Regions from separate parts of the Homo sapiens genome. Here region 2 is linked to region 1. Evidence: fine-mapped expression QTL. A gene starts in region 1. The other region holds a variant in brackets. All regions are shown on one strand. Distances are from middle to middle.

What was found.
Region 2: its variant is fine-mapped to the expression of NOSTRIN in stomach (GTEx, PIP above 0.99).

The regions. Positions count from the first base shown.
Region 1 is chr2:168,796,853-168,810,234 of GRCh38, forward strand. NOSTRIN (nitric oxide synthase trafficking) reads left to right here and starts at 5,785. Exons shown (of 16, transcript NM_001039724.4): 1 at 5,785-5,821. The coding sequence starts at 5,795. RefSeq lists enhancers at 1,607-1,901, 5,229-5,728.
Region 2 is chr2:168,877,112-168,885,111 of GRCh38, forward strand. It overlaps SPC25 (SPC25 component of NDC80 kinetochore complex), which reads right to left. Exons shown (of 7, transcript NM_020675.4): 4 at 127-273. Among named protein-coding and RNA genes, the nearest start is that of SPC25, 9.3 kb to the right of the region's middle. The variant A/G (reference allele first, on the strand shown) is at 4,230.

The DNA of each region.
Region 1 (13,382 bases):
AGCTGAGGATATGGGCCTACCCGTAAACAATATCCCCTGCCTTGCCAAAAAAGAGAAACTTGCGAATGAAGTCACTCTCTCAGTATTTAATTCAATCAAATGAAAGCAATTATTTATTGAACACTTACTTTGCTCCAGATACTTGGCTATGAGGAGCTCACTGAGTACTGTGGGAGGCAGACCATTGAACTCATACTTTTCTTTTCTTTCTTTCTTTTTCTTTTTTCTTTTTTTTTTTTTTTTTTTTTTGGAGACAAGGTCTCTCTCTGTCACCCAGGCTGGATGGAGTGTGGTGGCATGAACACGGCTTATTGCAGCCTCGATTTCCCCAAGCTCAGGTGATCCTCCCACCTCAGCCTCCTGAATAGCTGGGACTACAGGTACGTACCACCATGCCTGACTAGTTTTTTTATTTTTTATTTTTGGTAGAGATGGGGTTTTACCATGTTGCCCAGGCTGGTCTTGAACTCCTGGGCTCAAGCAACCCTTCTGCTACAGCCTCCCAAAGTATTGAGATAACAGGCATGAGCTGCCACACCCAGCCTAAACTAATACTTTCAACACAATAAGATAAACAAAGTAAAAGAGGTGTGTGCAATGGATAGCAGTAGTACAAAGGCAAGAGTTCACTCTCTCTGGGGAAAGCAACACAAGCTAGACTTTGGAAATAAGTAAAAGTCAGCTGGGCCAACATAAAGCTATAAGGACTTCCCACTGGAAGGGACAGCATAAGCAAAATCCTAGAGATACAAAAATAACATGTCATCATCTCAACTGTCAGTTCTTTTTTTAAAATTAAAGTTAGCATAAGTGTTAACCTTAAATTTTTTTTTTTTTTAATGTTGCTTGGTGTGGTGGTTCACTTCTGTAATCCCAGCACTTTGGGAGGCCAAGACAGATGAATCGCTGGAGTTCAGGAGTTTGAGACAAGCTTGGGCAACATGGTGAGACCCTGTCTCTACCTTGTGCCTCTGTTGCCCTGTGGGTATTATAAGGATCAAAATAATACATATCTACCTCAAATGATAACTGTGATGATTAAATAAGTTAATAAGTCATCCCGCAGTATCCATGGGGCATTGGTTTCAGGATACCCCCTCATATCAAAATCCAAAGATATTCAAGTCCCTTATATAAAATAGTGTCATATTTGCATATAACCTACACACATCCTCCCATGTACTTTAAATCATCTCTAGGTAACTCATAATACCTAATGCTATGTAAACGTTATATAAATAGTCATAAATACTTATTTGTATTTTTATTGTTATTTTTAAAATTATTATTTTCAATCTACAGATGCAGAACCCAGGGATATGGAGAGCCAATTGTATTTGTAAAACACTTAGAATGGTGCCTGACACGTGGTATGTCCTTTAAATGTGGGCTCATATTACCATAAAGTATTTAACTAGGTCTCAATTGATGATGTTCATGCTGTTGCCAATTCTTTGCACGCTTTGGCTACTAAAGAAACTTCCAAGGCAAGTTTTGAATTGCCATGAGCTTCTATTACATTTGGGCTCCTTTTTCTTACTAGCTTACCAACACCCAATATTTGTTTGTGAATACTTCATAAATGCGTACTCATGTTGTTAACTCCCCTTAGAGGCAGCACAAAATGTCAAAGTTGGAGTCCAGCAGAGCAGCTTCCAGGCCAGACCCTGGAAGGGAATCCGTTGCAGGTTTTCTTTCTGCAGAGAGGCCATACCAGGAAGGCACATGCTGAGCAGAGACTGAGAAAGAAAGCAGGAAGATTAGGATAGGAGAGGTCAGACAGTAAATCTAACCGGAAGCCAGGCTGGAAAGCAGCCAGAGTATGAGTGCGGGTCAGAAATGTAGGACCAGAGACGAATCTGAGAACAGAGAACTCAAAAGGACTCTTTGTGCATTAAAATTTTCAGAAAGTGTGAATGGCATACCTTCTTGGAGGAGATGCTTCGATCGATCGATCGATCGATAGATAGATAGACAGACAGACAGACAGACAGAAGATAGTTCTTGAGAGAAGAAAAATGGCTTAGAGCAGTCTGAGCTATATGAGGTATGCAAAATTTATCAGGCCCAGAGAGGGGAGTATGGGGCTCAAGTCTTGCTCTGCCTCCTTGAACCCACACCTAGAAGCAATCATGTAAAGGCATCTTGTTCCTGACTAGCTGCCTCATCTGCTATCTTTATGGTCCTGGAATTTGTGATTCACAGAACAGTGTAGAGCCAATCAACAGCTTGTGTTATTTTCATGGAAATTCTTGGCAAACAACTCAGGAGCTTCCTCTTCCTCTTCTTTTCCTTTGAAAACCTACTTGTACCTGCTGCTAACCAGAGCGTATACTCAGGGCCACTTGAAACTATGCTCTTGGGTTGCAGCCCTCAAGCTTGGCCCAAGTAAATGCTCTACTTATATTAAGTTGGCCTCAGTTGTTCTTTCCTTTAGGTTCACATTCTCATCAACCTGTAGGTACAAATGAGGTTGTTAATATTAATTCCAAAACTACAAGATTCTTTGCTCCTCTTACTCACATGGGAACTCAGTCTCCTCCTCCCAAAGTCCCCTTGGGCCATTTTTGGGGACTGGAGGAATTCTCACATGCTCGGGGACAAATGTGCTCACTGTGGTCTGCTCTATCCTTCTCATCAAGATGCCTCACCTACCTGAGCCTCAGTGGCTGAAGACAACTTAGCAGGTTCTCCCTGCTGCTGCCTCCTCACAACCCATATCCAGGAGAGGTGCTTTTTGCTGTGCTCCTTAGCAGAGTATGTGTAGGGTGGAATGTGGGGTCAGAGGAGAGAACAGCCCTTATCCGTCTAGAGTCTTTTATGATTTAGGTCCTCTTATTTCTCTTCCTAACGCCAGTCTGCTGAGGTTCAAAACGTGTCACCCCAGGCTGGATTGGGGAGAGGGAAAGAAAGACATATACCAGCCACCTGCTCCTTGTCCTTGCTGCTTTATCTCTAGTCATTCAAGAACAAATATTAAGCAGCCATTGTAGTAAATTGAATGGAAAACTAACTCCAATTGTCTGCCCCTCTCTGTCTCTATGCCCTTTGCAATGGGACACTAAGTTCCTCCTATTATGAAGTGGAAGCTCTCCTCACCCCTTTAATCTGGGCTGGCCCATGACTGGCTTTGATCAGCTGGATGTGGCTGAAATGATGGGATGTCCATATTAAGCTGTACCTCCAGAGGCCTCGAGCTCTTCCACTCACTCTTGTGGCTCCTCTGCCATACCCTGAGAAGAGCCTGGTTAGACTACCAGCTGATGAAATACGGCCTCAGCCAACAGCTAGCTCCCAGCCAGCCCCCTGCCCAGAAAAGCCCAGATGCATGGCTCTGCCAAGCCCTGTGTAGATGACCTGCTTTTACATGAGTGAGGTCAGGGGACACCTGAAGATCCATCCAGCTAAACTACAGATTTGTGAACCAAATAAAGTCTCTGTCATTTGAAGCCACTGGGTTTCTGTTTGTTACACAGCATTATTGTGACAAAGGATAAACGATACCAACCTATTTCTGACCTCCAAAATCAAGGCTTTTTGCACATTCAAACATTCCTCCGAGAAGCTCAACAAATAGCCAAGTTCTAATTCTCAGTCTGGATTCAGCTGGGATGCCCTGCTGCCCTTACAACGGCCCAGTGGCAGACAGGAGCAAGATGGAAGGATTTTAATTCAGCAGATGTCCAGGAGGTCTGAGGGAAAGCTAGTCAGCCCACTGGGAATGGCACACATGAGGAGTTTGGGGATAGGAGTGCCCTACCAATCTATAATTCGTATACAAAGATCACAGTAGGCTTTGTGTGACAGCACTTCTTATGGAAACTGGCAAGGGAGGCCAATTTCCTCAGTTTGGACTCAGTTGGGACTGAAATGAAACACAGAACAGCAAGAAAAATGGGGCAGGAATCACAGAGAAAACATTGAGCTGTCCCAAGTCCTGGAATGGTGGCTCCGGACAAGTTTATCTAAAATCTCTGAGGGCAGAGAAGCCCCCTCAAGTGGGAATTTGAGTTACATGTTATTAACCTCAGTCTATATCCTGTCTCTAAATTTCTTTTAAAAAAAAAACAAAAAAAGAGATGGGGTGTTGCTATGTTGACCAGGCTGGTCTCGAACTCCTGGCCTCAAGCAGTCTTCCCATCTCAGCCTCCCAAAGTGCTAAGATTACAGGTGTGTGCCACTGTGCCTTACCTAAATTTCTTTTATTATACAGAGTTGCTTTGTCTAATTCTAGCCCTGTGGTAGCTACCCAAGATTGTTGTAACCTCCAGTGATCAAGTTCTTTGGATAAGCAAAGAGGGAGGGCATTAAGTGTGTGGAAAAGACCCCTCCTCTCCACTCTTGTTGCAAGGCAAGTTCTTTTCCTTAATTGTCCCCTGACTCTTCTACGTTGTTTCTGGAAGCTTTTTTTTTTTTTTTTTAGAAGTAGAGTCTCACTCTATTGCCCAGCTTTGAACCCCTAGACCCAAGAAATCCTTCTGCCTCAACCTCTTGAGTAGCTGGGACTACAGGCACATACCACCACATCCTAATTAAAAAAAAAAAATTATAGAGATAGGAATCTCCTGCTATATTGCCCAGGCTGCTCTCAAACTCCTGGCCTCAAGTGACCCTCTAGGCTCGGCCTCCCAAAGTGCTTGGATTACATGCATGAGCCACTGCAACTGGCTTATTTCTAGGGACTTTGAATGGAGCCTGCACACCAGGGGCAGGTGAATGGAGGCTGAGTCAGCCAGTCAGGTGAAAACTGAATGCTTTTAAACTCTGAAGTGTTCCACTGGACTGTGTTGATGGAGCTCCTTTCAAACTGGGGCCTGCCCTTGCCTGCCAGTCAAACAGAACTGTCCACAGTCTAGCAAATGGCTGTCGTACATCAATAGGCCATTCATTGGAAATCTAATGATTGGCAACTGGGACCACAGGTACAGGGAATGCAATAGAACTCAAGCTGTGGTTGAGTTCTTGTTCTGTCTATCCTTTTGAGTGATGAAAAATGAGGCCAGATCTAGGCAATTTTTTCTTTACATTGAAAGCTTAGCCTCTTGATCCTGTTGGGGCTGGAGCGAGTGTGGAGTTAGGCTCAGAGAAGTGGTTAATGTACGCTTTGCTCCTGATAGCTGTTTCTGAACATTCTATAGTTATAGTTCTATAGGTGTAGGTTCCTAGTTGTTTGGTGTCTGGCCCTGTGGGATTTAGGGGGTGGGGGAATATGGGCTTGGTATTTGAGAACTGGGTAACAGAGATGGTGGGGAGGTTTGGGCTCTGGATTTGTTGGTTTGCATATTAAAGGAGTGCTCACAGGCCAGTTGTTTGCTCTCTCTAGGAATTAGCTAACCCTCAGAGAGGCAGTCTGTCTCCAAGTCCATGAGGTCCCCAAAGGTCAAAGCATCATACAATACAGAAAATAAAAAGCATGATTAATACTGCAGGCTGAGAGGATATGTGTTCCTGCACTGTCAGACCAAGCGCAAGAATTGTTGGAGACATGTTACAGCTTCTCTGCCTTCTCTCAATGTTACGCTGTTCAGGACTCAGGATCCTGCCCTCTGAGGGTTTACAGAAGTCATTCTCACTATCTCACACTGGCCGTCTTGACCCAGAGCAGTTCTTTACTTTCTCGGGACACAAACGGGATGAAAGTCCAGGGCTGGGACTTCCTCCTTGGAATGTTTGACAAGGACTGACGTACTCTAGGCCCTTTGAATCCCGGAAGTCCAGGACACACCCAACCTTGATTACAGTGTCCAGAATGCTGGAGCGTAGGTGAAAGGACAAAAGCCAGACACATTTCAACATGAGGGACCCACTGACAGATTGTCCGGTGAGTAGCTCAGTGTGGTTTGTGTGCCTGCGTGTGAGGAGGGTGGAGGGTGGATTTGTATATTAATGGATTTTAACTTAAGAAATTTGAGACACTCAGAAACCAAACACATTTAGATATTGGCTGTGGTGCAAAAGTTTGTGGTTTTTCTTTGGTTCAGTTTAAAAACAGAGCTTTTTCTAGGAAATGACAGGGCAGGTAATTGTCATCTTTCCTTCTCATATTCTTGGAAAAAGTTTTGAGAGAGTAAAGCCTCATATTTGGATCCAGATGGTGGCTGTTTGGAAAACATTCTTAAGACATACACCCATGGTGCCAACATCATGTGTGGTGTGGATACAAAAACACACAGAATGTCTGCAGCCAATTTTTGGCTCTGAGAATAAAGTGAGGGAGGAGAGTTTTTGTGCCTTTTCACCCTCATTTTTTGGAGTCAAGGATCACAAGTCCTGCAGGAGGAAGGATAGACTCCCCACTCTGCCTGGCCTGCAGTGGCTCTCAGACTGGTTTAGCAGCATGTTTGTTCCATGTTTGTTCGTTTTGGTAATGTTTGGAGCACTACCAAAAATATAAGTTTGGTCAGAAGTCCAAAGACATTGTGAGGTCTCCGGCGGCAATAGCAGAGATGTAATTTAGGAGATAAGAAGCAACTAAAATAAAGGGGGGGATATGTTTACTTTGAAAATAAAGTAATTAAGGAGGGTCAGTGTTTTATCCCAACACATGGGGCTGAAAAGCTAAGATTGGTGACATCATAAGCAGGAGGTTGCAGTCATCCTTCATGTATTGATAACACAAACTGTGGGGCGGCAGATAAATGGGCGCTGAGATAAAGTCATAAAGAAAAAGATCAGCAGAGGATTATTGATTTCCTTTTTGTTTATTCAATGGATAAGAAAAGCACATGGTTGGAAAAAATGGAACTATAGTTACTATTGCAGAAAATCAGATGAGCTAAATGAGATGAACTCATAAATGACTAGTAATTTTAATAATGACAACATAGTAGCCAATTCTGCCTAATTTTCCTTTTTTTAAATACAGAAATAATTTGTGCTTAATGTAGAAACAAATTCCAATGATATGGTTATATATAGATTTTTAAGAGTGAAACTTCCCCCTTTAATTACTTCAATCTCAGTGTTCTCTCCATTGTTAATTGTGAATAATTTTTAAGAAGTCTTTTATCATTTATTTTTCTCTCCTTGAGGTTGCTCCCTGACTAAACTGTTAAATCCTCTCCTGTCTCAACACTCCTACCTCAATGTTTTTGTATAGGGGCGGCAGGCCAGGACAGGGATGGGGTAAGTGGCAGCAAAATCTTGGCACTAATAGTAACCAAAGAAGAAAATTAACACCAGGGAAGGGTGCAATGGACAGAAGACAGGGAAATGGTGGGCAGCTTTAATTAAGTTTAAAAAGAGAAGAAGAAATAAATCCATAAAAAAGAAACTGAAGGTCTAACATCCTTTTTGTAGACAGCAAAGTCAAGTCTTCAGACGTGGAGAAATGTTTTCTTTCAGCAGCCCCCAAGGCAACCCATAACCACACTTCTGTGTCTGCTTAAAGCTCCACTCCCTGGCATGCTGAATAGTTCCTTGTGCTATGCTGGGCCAAGGACTCCTGTCCTTGTCTAAAACTTTGAAGGTCATCTGTATGGGCTCATTGCCACCAAAAGTATCCGGGAGTCATGGGGAGGGCGGATATCCCTTCAGCCTGGGTTTCCAAACCCTCTAAACTCACAGAACATTTATTTATTTGCAATTGTTTCATCTTAATCAAGTGTTCAAGTTGATTTCCTGGCACATTCTTAGCTTGTACTTGGGGAACAATGCTATGTGAAGATGAATCTGCGGTTTGGGAACAAAATAAGACAAGGAAATGGATTGCAAATGAGTGCCTCATGAAACATTTAGGTAGTTTTATAAAAGAACCCAAAGCTTTAACCACCTGCAAAATGTCCCCTTCCATGAGTCCCTAGAGTTGCACAGAGCACAGTTCATAAAGTATTAGCTTAGCTACTGTTCTTAACCGGGCCCACACCAATGTACCCATGTATGGAACTCAGTGGGTTGCATGAACTTCAGTGAAAAAAAATCTCTATTTGTACTAATTTCTAACTGAAATTTAGAATTTTATTCAATCCAGAATATAGGCAACAAGCCCCAATACTATTAGTCATATCTGTATAGTGTCTGTGACTTTGTAACCAATAAAAATCAGAAATTTTATGATAACATTACAGTTGTTGCACATATCTAGAAATATTTACATTCACCCTGACTTCAAAATGTTGGTAATACTTAAGATATGTAATTTAGTATGTTAATAAAAAAGCACATAATATCATAATTTTAAAAATACATTCTAAAAAATATATAATTCATTTCCTTTTTAACCCTACGCTACTTAAAAATGTTATTCTGAATCAAATAGGTTTCATGAGACTACAAAAAGGGCTCATGGTACGAAAAAATTTAAAAATCTCTTTTAGATCAAGCTCTAATGGGCAAAATAGACTGACAGCTGGGCCTTTCAACCTCAAAGAGCAAGGTCAGTGTTTGAGTTCAAATTGTTGCCAGGGTGGCATAAGATTGCCTAAATGCTGTGTAGGATTAATCTTGAGAGTGTCAGAACTTATTTGAAAAAGATATCTGTAAGATATCTTTAAAGTTCTGTTTTTGACAAGGAAAAGAATTGGCTCTGGGCCTTGATGTTTCATTGCCTATGAAGGTTTAGGTTTAGCTCTTAAACCTAAAAATATGTCTAGGGAACTCATCTTCAAATCCATGTGCAAGAAAGGCGAAGTAAGATCCAATTATCTCTAAGGGAAAGAATCCAATCATAAGAAAGTATTAATAGCACCTTCCTATCAAACAATCACATAGAAATCAAGGACAAGTAACAAGCTGTAGCCAAATTTTTGCTTTTTACACACTCATACAGTATCCAGGAAGGGGTCTGTCAAAGCAAGTCTTCTGGGCGCCACACAGTCAGCCCCTCCCCGCATGTCATCGGCCATTGAAATGGCACCAGGCTGCTCCTCAGGTTGGTAACCTGGCTCAGATGCCAACCTGAGCTTCCCATCTTGGTGGCTTAGCCTGGATATCAGACAATGACTGTCACTAACTCAGATGGTGCCGGTGCCATGGTCCGTAGCTCCTAGGAGAATCTGACTCGCTGCAAAAATACAGAAGGAGGCTGCATATGGCATGGGTGTCACGTGGCCCACAGCCTCCCCAGTGTGCATCAGTGAGATGTGTAACATGCCATTCCACATTTCTTGGACCTCTGTTTCCTTGTGTGTAAAGTAAAAGGAGGAAAGGATGGAGTAGACTATGCTCTTTAATGTTCCATATCCCGTAATCTATGACAGTCTGCCACAGGGATTCCAAATACTACGCAGATGGTGAACAAGTACATGGAATCCCTTCAGAGAGGGGCAGTGCTTTGAAACATCACCCCCAGTGAATCAGAACTCACATGATATCAGTAGCACAGTGCCTGGCGTAGTAAAGGCAGTCAGCAAAGTTCATTGTGTTAAATTTAAGGGGAATATCATGGTTTCTTTAACACTGTGAGGATCATCACTAATCAAAAAAAATCCTTCTGTACTAGCATCAATAAAAATAAATTTTTCTATAACTTTTTCTAGAACTAAATTTAACCCTCTTAATCATTCAAGCAGAAAGAGCAGGTGGGCCAAGCTTGATATAGGCACTTTATAATCTTTACAAGTCGCCTGTCTAAACATTTCATGTGCTGACTGGCTGGATTACTAAATGTTTTTTGTAATGGCTATATTTATCAACAGAATTTGCTTACAAGTGCTGGGAAGAAACATTTTCCTAATGGCCGAATGGGAAATGTCTGTCAAATAGACCAGTTGTCTATTTGAGAAGGGGTTATTATTTTTTTAGGGGCTCAGGAAGATCCCAGGTATTCCACTACCAGACTGAAATCCCTTTATCAGGGGAGAAAAACCTCATCGTGTTTTTTTCCCCAATAATTAATGGTCCCCAGGAGAAGCAGCATATTAATATGAATTCATATGGAGATGTAGAATCAATAGTAGATTATTCCCTGGAATGAATATTTGATAGGGGGTTAGGATATTTAAAAGCTCAATGGGTAGGAAAAGAACACCAAAATTGCCTTCCACCTGACTGCACTTCTTCTCAGCAAGCTCTTCTTCTTGTGCTGGTTAATGACATCAAGAAGCCAGCTGTATTGCACATAACACTTAAAGGCTACTATAACTTGGAGTAAACTTACTGTGATTATACAGATTAGCCATTTATAAATGTATTTGTTTCTGATGGATTCTCTAATTGATTTTCATACCTAACATTTCTAATCACAACTCTGTCTCTAACTAATTAGGTTATCCTTATCTCTTTGGGTCTTAACTGTAAATAAGGGAATTAGACTTTGGTGGCTTGCAAACTGTGCTCCATGGAACCCTTTCAGAGTCCTCTCTGGTGGGTGGGAGTGTGGTGAGGTAGGAGTGAGACAACCAAAACTAAAGTCAAGTGATTTCACCCCCACAAAGCAGGTAAGTTCCAAGATTTTCTGAACACACACACACACATACATACACACACACACAGAGAGAGAGAGAACTATATGGTCTCTGGAAGTCTGCTGTAGCATTTAAGTGGGTCTGCTTTTCACAGTTTTTGTCTCCAAGTCTCAGTAGATGGTACATAATGAAAAGTACAGAATGATTGATTCTAAATAAGGGTTTATGCTGGGATAATGAAAATATTCTTAGCAAATCTTTTATTTATTGATGTCACCTTTATCTCAATCTGGATCAAGGTTTGTTGGGGGAATTTTTGGCGTATAGTATATAGGATCAAGGGTAAAGATTCTCTCCATTGCTCTTGTAAGCACATCTCTTATCTGATCGCTAAATTAACAACAAGTATGAAGATCTTCTCAACTTGCATGTGCCTGGGCATACTGGCGTTTGAGGTTTGAGGGTGGGTTACAGGTGTACCTTAGACACAAATCCTCTGCACCGTTGAATTGGCAGAGTATGGCTGGGAGCGAGGTACGAGGCAAAGCCATGGGCCAGTTCCCTCTTCCTGGAACAATTTTGTCCATTTACCACACTCTACCAGTACAAATATTTGCTATGTGCACCATTTTGGGACAAAAGTTAGAAAGTACTGGTCTATGAAATGACAGAAAATCATCTTCCAAAATCTAGACCTGGTAGCCCATGGGTCAATGGAAGCCATAGACTGTGCTTTGGTCCAGCAGCCCCTTACTTTAAGAGGTTGAATGTGAATGCCTTTGCCACAGGCTTCACCACTGCCACTGAAGGCAATTGAGTTTTCAATCACTGGCTTATAAACTTTCAGCATGGCCTAGCCTCCTAAAACTAGTTCCCTTGAGACAGTATTTAAAAATGTGTCTTAGGGAGTTTTGATGGCTTGATAAGTTTAGGAAATGCAGCAGCCCCTGTAACCCAAGCACATAGAAAAATTCTCAACTGGTTCTACTCATTTCTACATTGGTTATGAGCAGAGTTTTCTCTACATGCCCCCATTCCACGCTTGATGTCCAGGGTCCCTTGTTCTCTCCCATAGGTAACTTCTATGTGCAGACTATCCTGTGGTGATGGTGGACTGGTAGGGCCTTTCCCTTAGGACATTTCATCTCAGAGTCCCTTCCTTCCACTCCTGCTTCCCCTAATGGGAGGTTCTTTTTCTCCTTCCCACTCTAAATCCCTCGAATCCATCTCTCTGCTTTCTTTTCTCCCATCCTCAGCCCCAGCTTTATAGTGTGTTTGAGAGCAGAAGAATTTACTCCGTAAACATGCATCCAGGTCTTTCTCTCTTGCACAAGGCCCCATGGCTTTTTGTTGAGTCTTTGTTTCTGCTTTGCTGTGGGCTGGAGAGAAGTCAATAAGACAATACATAAAAATCCATAGCTTAATACTGTGAGATATTTCTAAATAAATCAAATAAGAAAGCCACAGGACCTATAAAGAAAATCATAAAATTTTATTGAACATAAAATAAAATTTGAACAAATGCAAAAACTTACTATGTCCTTGGATAGAAAGTCTAAACACCATTAAAAAGTCAATTTTCCCAAATTGATACATGTATGTAATACAATTCCAATTAGGATCCCAACGGGGATTTAAAAAGAAATGTAATTAGACAAATGTTCATATGTTAGAATAAATGCCTCAGAATAGCCAAATAAATTATGAAAAGGAAAAAAATAGTTGTTTAAAGAGAAAGCAGAAGCAAAGTGTTAAAATCTCTATAACTTAGGTAGTGAGTACATAATGTGTATTATTATTTTCTGTATCATTATGTTATGAAACATAAAAGTGTTTCATAATTCAAAGCAAAAAGACCCTGTATGAGTTAGAACTATGTTCAGCTGCATATTAGAAAAACCCCAAATACATATGTCTTTAGAAAACAACATTGTATTTTTCTTACACATAAAATAAATCCAAAAGTAGAGAGTTGAGGGCTCGTGTGGTGTTCTTCACAGCCATCAGGGACCCAGGCTCTTTTTCTCTTTCCACTCTGTGATCTTAATGCATTATGTCCAATCTCAATACCACTTTATGGCTTTGGCCTTCATTTTCAAGTCCAGAAGGAAGAAAAGAGGGCAAACAAGCCTTTACTGAAACCTCATACAAAACCTTCCCTCACATCTCCTTGGATAGCTTTCAGTCACATGGTTATAGATCAAAGGGGGAGGGAGGCTGAGAAATGACCTTATTTCAGGAGTATGTACCCCACTAAACATTTAGGCATTTTCTTCTCATGACACTGAGGTGTGTTTCATGGGATGCTATTAAGTATTATAGAAGAAAACAAAAGGCTTAGGGAGAAATCTAGTGGAAATGTTTAGGTAACATAGGAGTAAACAAAGAGGTTAAACAAGTTTCTTTACTGCAGGTCTTCTCACAATTTGAAAATACTCCCTTAAACTTTCCCAGTGTGCTGTAAGGGTAGGAAGGAGGCCTTAATAGTATCAGACCATTCATATATGGTCTGATAATAATAAATATATTATTATATTATTTTATTAAAATATTTATATATTAAATATAAAAAATAAATAATAAAAATAATAAAAAGTTAGTTTTATTGGAAGTAAAAATTAGAAAGCTTGATTGCCAAATAGTGATTTTACTTTCATGACTGACAGGAGGATTATTTTTCCTTCATGAGAGAGGCTACAAATTGGAACCTCACTACAAGTGTGTTTTGTTTACACTGCAGAGAGGTTTTTAATTTGTGAATTGTTTGCTACCATTAAAAAAAAATCATGTTTCGGATGCAAATCCTGATTTCAGCTTTTTTGGACAAAGTGGGAGATCTGGCTTTCCTGGGCCACATTCCAGGTGGCAGTGATGGGCCAGAATGGTTCTAGCAGCTGCCTCACCAGTTCACGGTCCTCACCCTCCTCCTCACTCATTCAGGTGCCTGACTGGTGCCAGCAGCCACAGGATTTTACAAACTCTGCTTTAGAAATTAGCAATTTCCTCATTAAAGCTTTGCACCCTCACCACTCTCCTTGT
Region 2 (8,000 bases), 78 kb after region 1:
TGGTTATGCCCTGGGGTACTGTAATCCATTTTTAGCAATGAACTGGAACAGGCAAGATGTACTTAATAAAGGTGAACCGTCACCACTTTCCATTTTAGATCAGTATGTTTATAAGAGGAAACTTACTTTCCTTCTTCCTAGAATATTCTTCCTTAAGATCCTGGATATTTGCAGTCAGTACTTCCAATTCCTGCTTTTTGCCTTTTACTTCAGCAATCAATTTTAACAAGTTATCCTTTTTTTCTTGAATGAGCTTATTTTGCCTGCTGATCTCTGTAAGAAGCACAAGGTATTAGCTAGAATATGCTTGGCTCTCTGACATGTATCTAAGAAAAGGCCAAAGTTTACTGACTTTCATAAAGATTAATAAAGAATGTTTTGACTGATAAGCATTTTCTAATGATTCAAAATTATAAAAGACAAAAAAGAAAAAAAACCTAATCTATTCTTTCCTACTTACTCATCTTTAAAAAAAATGAGACAGAAAAGCTTCTTAAAATGAGAATACCAAATTAAATCAAGAAACAGAAAATCAAAAGATCATGACCCTTGCAGCTCCCCACTCCAAATAAGCACAGAAATAAAAACTACCAACAAAGATAACTAAACTCTATTATTTATTTTATTTTTATATTTTTTTGAAACAGGGTCTCACTGTTGCCCAGGCTGGAATACAGTGGCACAATCACTACTCATTGCAGCCTCCCACCTTAGCATCCCTAGTACCTGGGACTACAGGCACACACCACATCACGCCTGGCTGATTTTTAAATTTTTTTGTCTCACTATGTTGCCCAGGCTAGTCTCAAACTCTTAGGCTCAAGCAATCCTCCTACCTCAGCCTCTCAAAGTGCTGGGATTACCAGTGCAAGCCACCACGCCTGGCCAACAACCAAACTCTAGAAGATGGTTTTAAACAGTGCTTTGAGGAAAAGCCTCACTCTAATGCTATATAAATTATTCCGGAACATACCAAAAGACAGAAATAAGTGAAGGAAGACAGGTGGGCAGGCAAAGCTTACAATGTAAGCATAATTCTAAAGCTAAAACAAAAAATTAAAGATAGCACTGGCCCTCTGCCCACAACTATATAAACTAATCTCACTTAAAAACATAGGTGCAAAGATGCTCAATAAAATATTAAGTTACATTAAAAATAATCCACTAAGAGCAAATATAGTTTATACCAAGGATTTTACATAGTGAAGGTGTAATATTAGGAAAATCCATCACATGAATAAGAATTGAAGAGACATTTCATATGAATTCAGCATCCACTCCTGACTATTCTTAACTATAAATGGAAGGACATTTAACATGATAGAAACAAATCAAAAACCTTTCAAATCTCATCATATATATTTGGCATTTCCAAAAGGAATAAAATAGATGCCAGTTAGCACTGTTATTTAATATTTCCCTAGAAGTTTCTGGCCAAGACAAGATATTTAGCTGGTAAAACTATAAGGAAAAAACAAGAACTATTTTTCATTATATGTAGACAATAGACATCTATCTAGAATACTCAGAAAAATCTACTGAAAACCTATCAGAATTTGTGGTACTACACCCCAAAAAAATCAATAGTTTTTGTACATAACACCAGTGATTAATACATAGGTAAGAATAGATGTTTATACTAATATTAATAGCTGCAATATTCGTTTTTGTTCTTTGTTTTTATTGGTTTTATTAGTTTTTGCTATTCTGTGCTATTTTTAAGTACTGGCATACGTTGGAGATATTGCAAGTTCTATTCCAGATCACTGTGATAAAGCGAATATTGCCATAAAGCAAGTCACACAAATGTTTTGGTTTCCCAGTACATAGAAAAGTTATTTTACACTATATTGTAGTCTATTAAGCGTGCAATAGCATTATGGCTAAAAAACAAATGTACATATCTTAATTAAAAATATTTTATTGCTAAAATATGCTAATAATCATCTGAGCCTTCAGCAAGTCCTAAACTTTTGCAGGGGGAGGGTCTTGCCTTGATGTTGATGGCTGCTGACTGATCAGAGTGGTAGCTGCTGAAGGTTGGGGTGGCTGTGGCAATTTATTATAATAGGACAACAATAAAGTTTGCTGCATTAATCAACTCTTTCATGAAAGATTTCTCTGCAGCATACAATGATGTTTGACAGCATTTACCCCTGGTAGAACTGTTTTCAAAATTGGAGTCAGTCTTCTCAAACCCTGCGCTACTTTATCAACTAAGTTTATATAATAGTCTAAATCCTTTGTTGTCAGTTAAACAATGTTCACAGCATCTTCACCAGGAGTGGATTCCATTCCATAAAACCACTTTCTTTGCTTATCCATAAGAAGCAACTCCTTATCCATTCAAGTTTTATCTGAGATGGCAGCAATTCGGTCACATCTTCAGGCTCCACTTCTAAATCTAGGTCTCTTGTGATTTCTACCACATCTGTAGTTACTTTCTCCATTGAAGTCTTGAACCTCTCAAAGTCATCCATGAGGGTTAAAATCAACTTCTTCCAAGCTCTTGTTCATGTTGATATTTTGACCTCTTCCTGTGAATCACGAATGTTCTATGGCATCTAGAATGGTGAATCCTTTCTCTGGAAGGTTTTCAATTTATTTTGCCCAGATCTATCAGAGTTAATCACTATTTGGGTAGCTATAACCTTATTTCTTAAATAATGAGACATGAAAGTCAAAACTACCCCTTGATCCATGGGCTGCAGAATGGATGTTGTCTTAGTAGGCATGAAAACAACACTAATCTCCATCAGCGCTCTTGAGTGACCAGATGCACTGTTAATGAGCAGAAATATTTTGAAAGCCATCTTTTTTCCTGAGTAGAAGGCCTCAACAGTGGGCCTAAAATATTCAGTAAACTATGCTATACACACATGTGCTGTCATCTAGGCTTTGCTATTCCATTTATAGAACATAGGCAGAGTAGATTTAGTATAATTCTTAAGGGCCCTAGGATTTGGGGAATGGCAAGTGAGCACAGGCTTCAACTTAAAGTCACCAGGTGCATTAGTCACTAAAGAGTCAGCCTGTCTTTGAAGCTTCAAAGCAGGCCTTGACTTCTCTCTAGCTATGAAAGTCCTAGATGGCATCTTCTTCCAATAGAAAACTGCTTTTTCATCTACATCAAAAATCCGTTCTTTAATGATCTGTTCATTCAATGATCTTAGCTAGATAACTTGCTGTAGCTTCTACATTAGCACTTCTGCTTCATCTTGCATTTTTATTTTATGGAGGCAGCTGCTTTCCTTAAACCTCAAGAACCAACTTCTGCTAGCTTCAAACTTTTCTTCTGAAACTTCCTCATCTTTCTCAAGCCTTCACAGAATTGAAGAGGGCTAGAGTCTTACCCTGAATTAGGCTTTTGCTTAAGGGAATGTTGTGGTTTGTTTGCTCTTCTATTAAGGCCACTAAAATTTTCTCTAACAATAAGGCTGTTTCTCTTTCTTATCATTCGTGTGTTCACTGAATTAGCACTTTTGCTAATTGGCGCAAGAGGCCAAGCTTTCAGCCTATCTCAGCTTTTGACACACTTTCCCACTAAGCTTAATCATTTCTAGCTTTTGATTTAAAGTGAGAGACCTATGACTCCTTCTTTCAGTTGAACAATTAGAGGTCACTATAGGGTTATTAATTGGCCTAATTTCAATACTGGAGACTAGGGAGGCCCAAGGAGAGGAAGAATGACAGGAATGGCTGGTCAGCAGAGCAGTCAGAAGTCATTCAACATTTATCCATTAAGTTTGTCATCTTATATGGGTGTCATTCATGGCACTTAAAACAATTACAATAGTAACGTCAAAGATCACTGATCATAGAGCACCACAAGAAATATAATAATGACAAGTTTGAAATCTTGTGAGAATTACCAACATGTGACAGATACGAAGTCACCACATGCTGATGGAAAAATGGTGCCCACAGACTTGCTTGACACATGGTTGCCATTAACCTTTAATTTGTAAAAATTGCAATATCTGTAAAGTGCAATAAAGTGAAGTGCAATAAAACAAGGTATCCATGTACCAAAATACTGGCCTTTTACATCTGTCTCACATATTGGCCAGCACCTCATTACTCCTTCTTGGCTTTAATCTCTCTACCTTCCCTGCCTTCCCCATGTCCCTGTCACTCTCTGTACAAGTTCTTCTTGCCCTAGCCCTCTTAAACACTCAGCTTCTGCAACTACCCACCCCTTTCTCACACACATGCTCAAAATAAAAACA[A/G]CAATGCCTGTGCATAAACCTGGCCAAACCTCTCTGCTGGGAAAGGAGTAACCCTGGCAGGACCACTTCTTCCTCTGTTTGTTGGAAGAAAGATACAACCGCTGCTACTTGGGGCCCATTGCACAGAGATGGTGTCCCCAAAATGCCAATCAGGGGGCTAGACAAAGCAGGAAGGCACAAAAAGCATAAGAGCTCTAGGGCAGAGGCTACTGAGGTCAAATAAGCAGAGCCAGTAGAGCTCAAGTGGTGCTTTATAATGTGCTTATGAATTTCTGAATTAAAGATTTAGTTTTACTAATACTTAAATGAAATCTAAACACTTTAAAATCGAATGCCAATTAATGCCAGTAGTCTAGAATTGTATCAAATAAACCAAACTATCTATACTGTCATTTAATTCCAGTATCATAATTACAAGTAAATATGTGCTCCAAGGATGAGTAATCTTTTTCTCAAAGTTAAACAAGTTAGTCCATCACTGAATTTATGAAGACTTTAAATACCATAAATCTTCAAAAGAGAAATACACTATGATATGTTTCCCAAATTGAAGTGAGCATGGAATTCTCAGTGCTTGAACAACATCTCTCAAGACAAGCATTCCTCAGGCAACAGGAAAATCTCGTTTACAGAGGTAACAAACAGAAAATTCAGAATCAACCTAGATCAAGAAATATGTAGGCTCTGTTTGAAAAAAACTGCAAAGCTTGTCTGAGACACATATTTGATCTGGATATATGAAGAGATATTTTATGCTTCTAAATATTATAAAAGATATGCCAAACAAACGTTGGCAGTTAGGAAGTTAATATGATAAATGAAATATCAAATCAATGTTCAAGAGGTAGATTATTCTCTAAACAGTGCCGAAATCCAAAATAAATTCTTTAGTCTTTTACTACTTTTTTAAAAGAAGAGGAAAAACACTCAGCAGTTCAGTAACTTGCCCAAAGCTGTATTTGCTAGGCTAAAATAAATAATAAGGGCCAGGCATGGCGGCTCACGCCTGTAATCCCTGCACTTTGCAACGCTCAGGCTGGCGGATCATGAGGTCAGGAGATCGAGACCATCCTGGCCAACATGGTGAAACCTCGTCTCTGCTAAAAATACAAAAATGAGCTGGGCGTGGTGGCGTGTGCCTGTAATTCCAGCTACTAGGGAGGCTGAGGCAGAATAGCTTGAACCAGGGAGTCGGAGGTTGCAGTGAGCTGCGATCACGCCACTGCACTCCAGCCTGGTGACAGGGCGAGACCCTGTCTCAAAAATAAATAAATAAATAAATAAACAGACAGACAGACTGCATTCAAACTCAGGTCTTGACTTCAAAGGCAATGCTTTGCCCATTAAATTATCCTCCTCCAACAATGGGTTACCATTTTAATCTCAAGAGGAAGACACAAATACAAATTCCTAAGAAAAAAACAGACAAAGGGATAAACAGATGAAACACAGAATGCAGATGGCTAATAAATATGAAAGATAATTTAACCTCAGATTAATCACAGAAATGCAAGTAAAACAGTAAGATTTCAATTTTCATTTATTACAACAATGTTTACAGAAATAATTACTAATATTGAGAGGAATGCAAAATGCTAGGGTCCTTCTAGAAAATATTTTTGACATTGTAAAATAAAAGAGCCTTAAAAATATTTACCTCCTTTGACCCAGCAATTTCATTTTTACAAAGTTACCCTAGGGAAATAGGATACGTGCAAATATTTATATATAAAAATTATTTTTCAGTATTTATAATGAAAAACTGAAAACATCTTCAATGGCTAACAAGCAAATGATTTTTAAAATATGGTATATCGATAAGATGGAATGTATTTTCAAAACAATTTAGCAATGTGGGAAAATATTCTCAAAGTTGAAAAAAAAAGATAGTTATATAGATACCATGAATATAATTACGTTAAAAACCTACATAGCTCATGAAAAACAAAAGCTAGAAAGTTGTTTTGTTAAATATGGTTCTCAACATTACAGGTGATATTTTTTGCTTTTCTGTATGTTCTAAGAATATGAACATGATCATATATTACGTCAAGTATAATTTAAAAATAAACATCTTACTAGAAAGAAAAATGCTACTATTTAAAGAAAAAAATTAAGTAGAATTGTACTACACAAGAAATTCAGATTGAAAGTCAAAGGTCTCAAGTCTGATTCAGCTTATCAGTTCTTACCCAAAGATCTCGGTCAAAATCACGACTTCTGAAACTCTTTTGCTCATTTGTAAAATGGGGATAACATTGGCTACCTCATTCACTGGGGTTAGAGTATCCAGTAATAATAATACAAAAACTTTTAAACTAGTGACACATAAATACCACATATGAGAGTGTTTTTATTATAACATTTGAAGAACTGTGTGATTTGTGGCCAATACAAATATAGGAGTCCTCGATGCTGTATGACCATTTTTTTTTCTTTTTTTTTTTTTGAGATGGAGTCTCGCTCTGTCGCCAGGCTGCAGTGCAGTGGTGCAATCTCAGCTCACTGCAACCTCCGCCTCCTGGGTTCAAGCAATTCTCCTGCTTCAGCCCCCTGAGCAGACAGGACTACAGGCACTCACCACCACGCCCAGCTAATTTTTATATTTTTAGTGGAGATGGGGTTTCACCATGTTGGCCAGGATGGTCTTGATCTTTTGACCTCGTGATCCGCCTGCCTCGGCCTCCCAAATTGCTAGGACTACAGGTGTGAGCCACTGCACCTGGCCTGCTGTGTGACTATTATTACATGTGTACATAGCAGGCTGTCTTATTCCCAGGACCGACATTTCAAACTTTCACTCCTACACACCAGAGGAACCCTTCTTTGCATTTTCACTCCAATGCACGTCAGTATAGCACAATGGAAAGAGCACAGACACTATCATTGTGATCCTAGATCCTCTATTTACCTTAGGCAAGTTTCTTAACCTCAGTGAGCTTCAATTTCCTCATCTGTAAAACAGGGATAATCTCTGTCTTAGACAGACTTCAGGATTTATAATAATGTAAAAGCCTGCCCATAGTAAATACCTCTCACTTTCAATAGATGATCTTCCTTCTTGTGATAATTAGAATTTATGGCTCCAGAACTTTAGGCTATTTTGTTCTCTGCAGTATCTTCCTAGAAGATTACCTGGTATACAGCAGTAGCTCAACAAGTATTTGGTCAGTGAATGAATTCCTTCCATCTTTCTTGTTCCCAAAATATCTATCTCAATCTTTACCTTACTGGATCTACCTGTGACTTACAGTGTTAACAACACCCTTTATTATTTCTCTCCTCTTTTAGTTTTGGTGACCTTCTCTCTTACTTCCTCTGTTCTCCAATTACGAATTCTGTCTTTCCTGGTCGTTTCCATTTAACTCTCTCAAATTGGAGAGGAAATGTAATGCTCTGAAGATGAGTAAGGCTTCTGGAGTTAATCTGATGATCTGGGGCAAATCATAATCTCTCTGGGACTGCAATATCAGAAAAGTAGGAATAATAATAATAAATGATACCAACCCTGGAGAACTATCATGAGGACTGAAGGAGGTGGTCAATGTAAGGCATTTAGCACAGTACCTGGCACACAGTAATGAGTAAATAAATATTATTACTAACCAAGGCTACCTTCTTTCACTCTACATATTCTTCCACAGCTTCAACCCCCTAAATACACTAAAGACTCACAAATCCCTATCTTCAGCAAAGACCACTTTTCTGGCTGGCTTCCAGATGAATATATCCATTGCCTATCAGATATCGCCACCTGAAGACTTGCTGCAC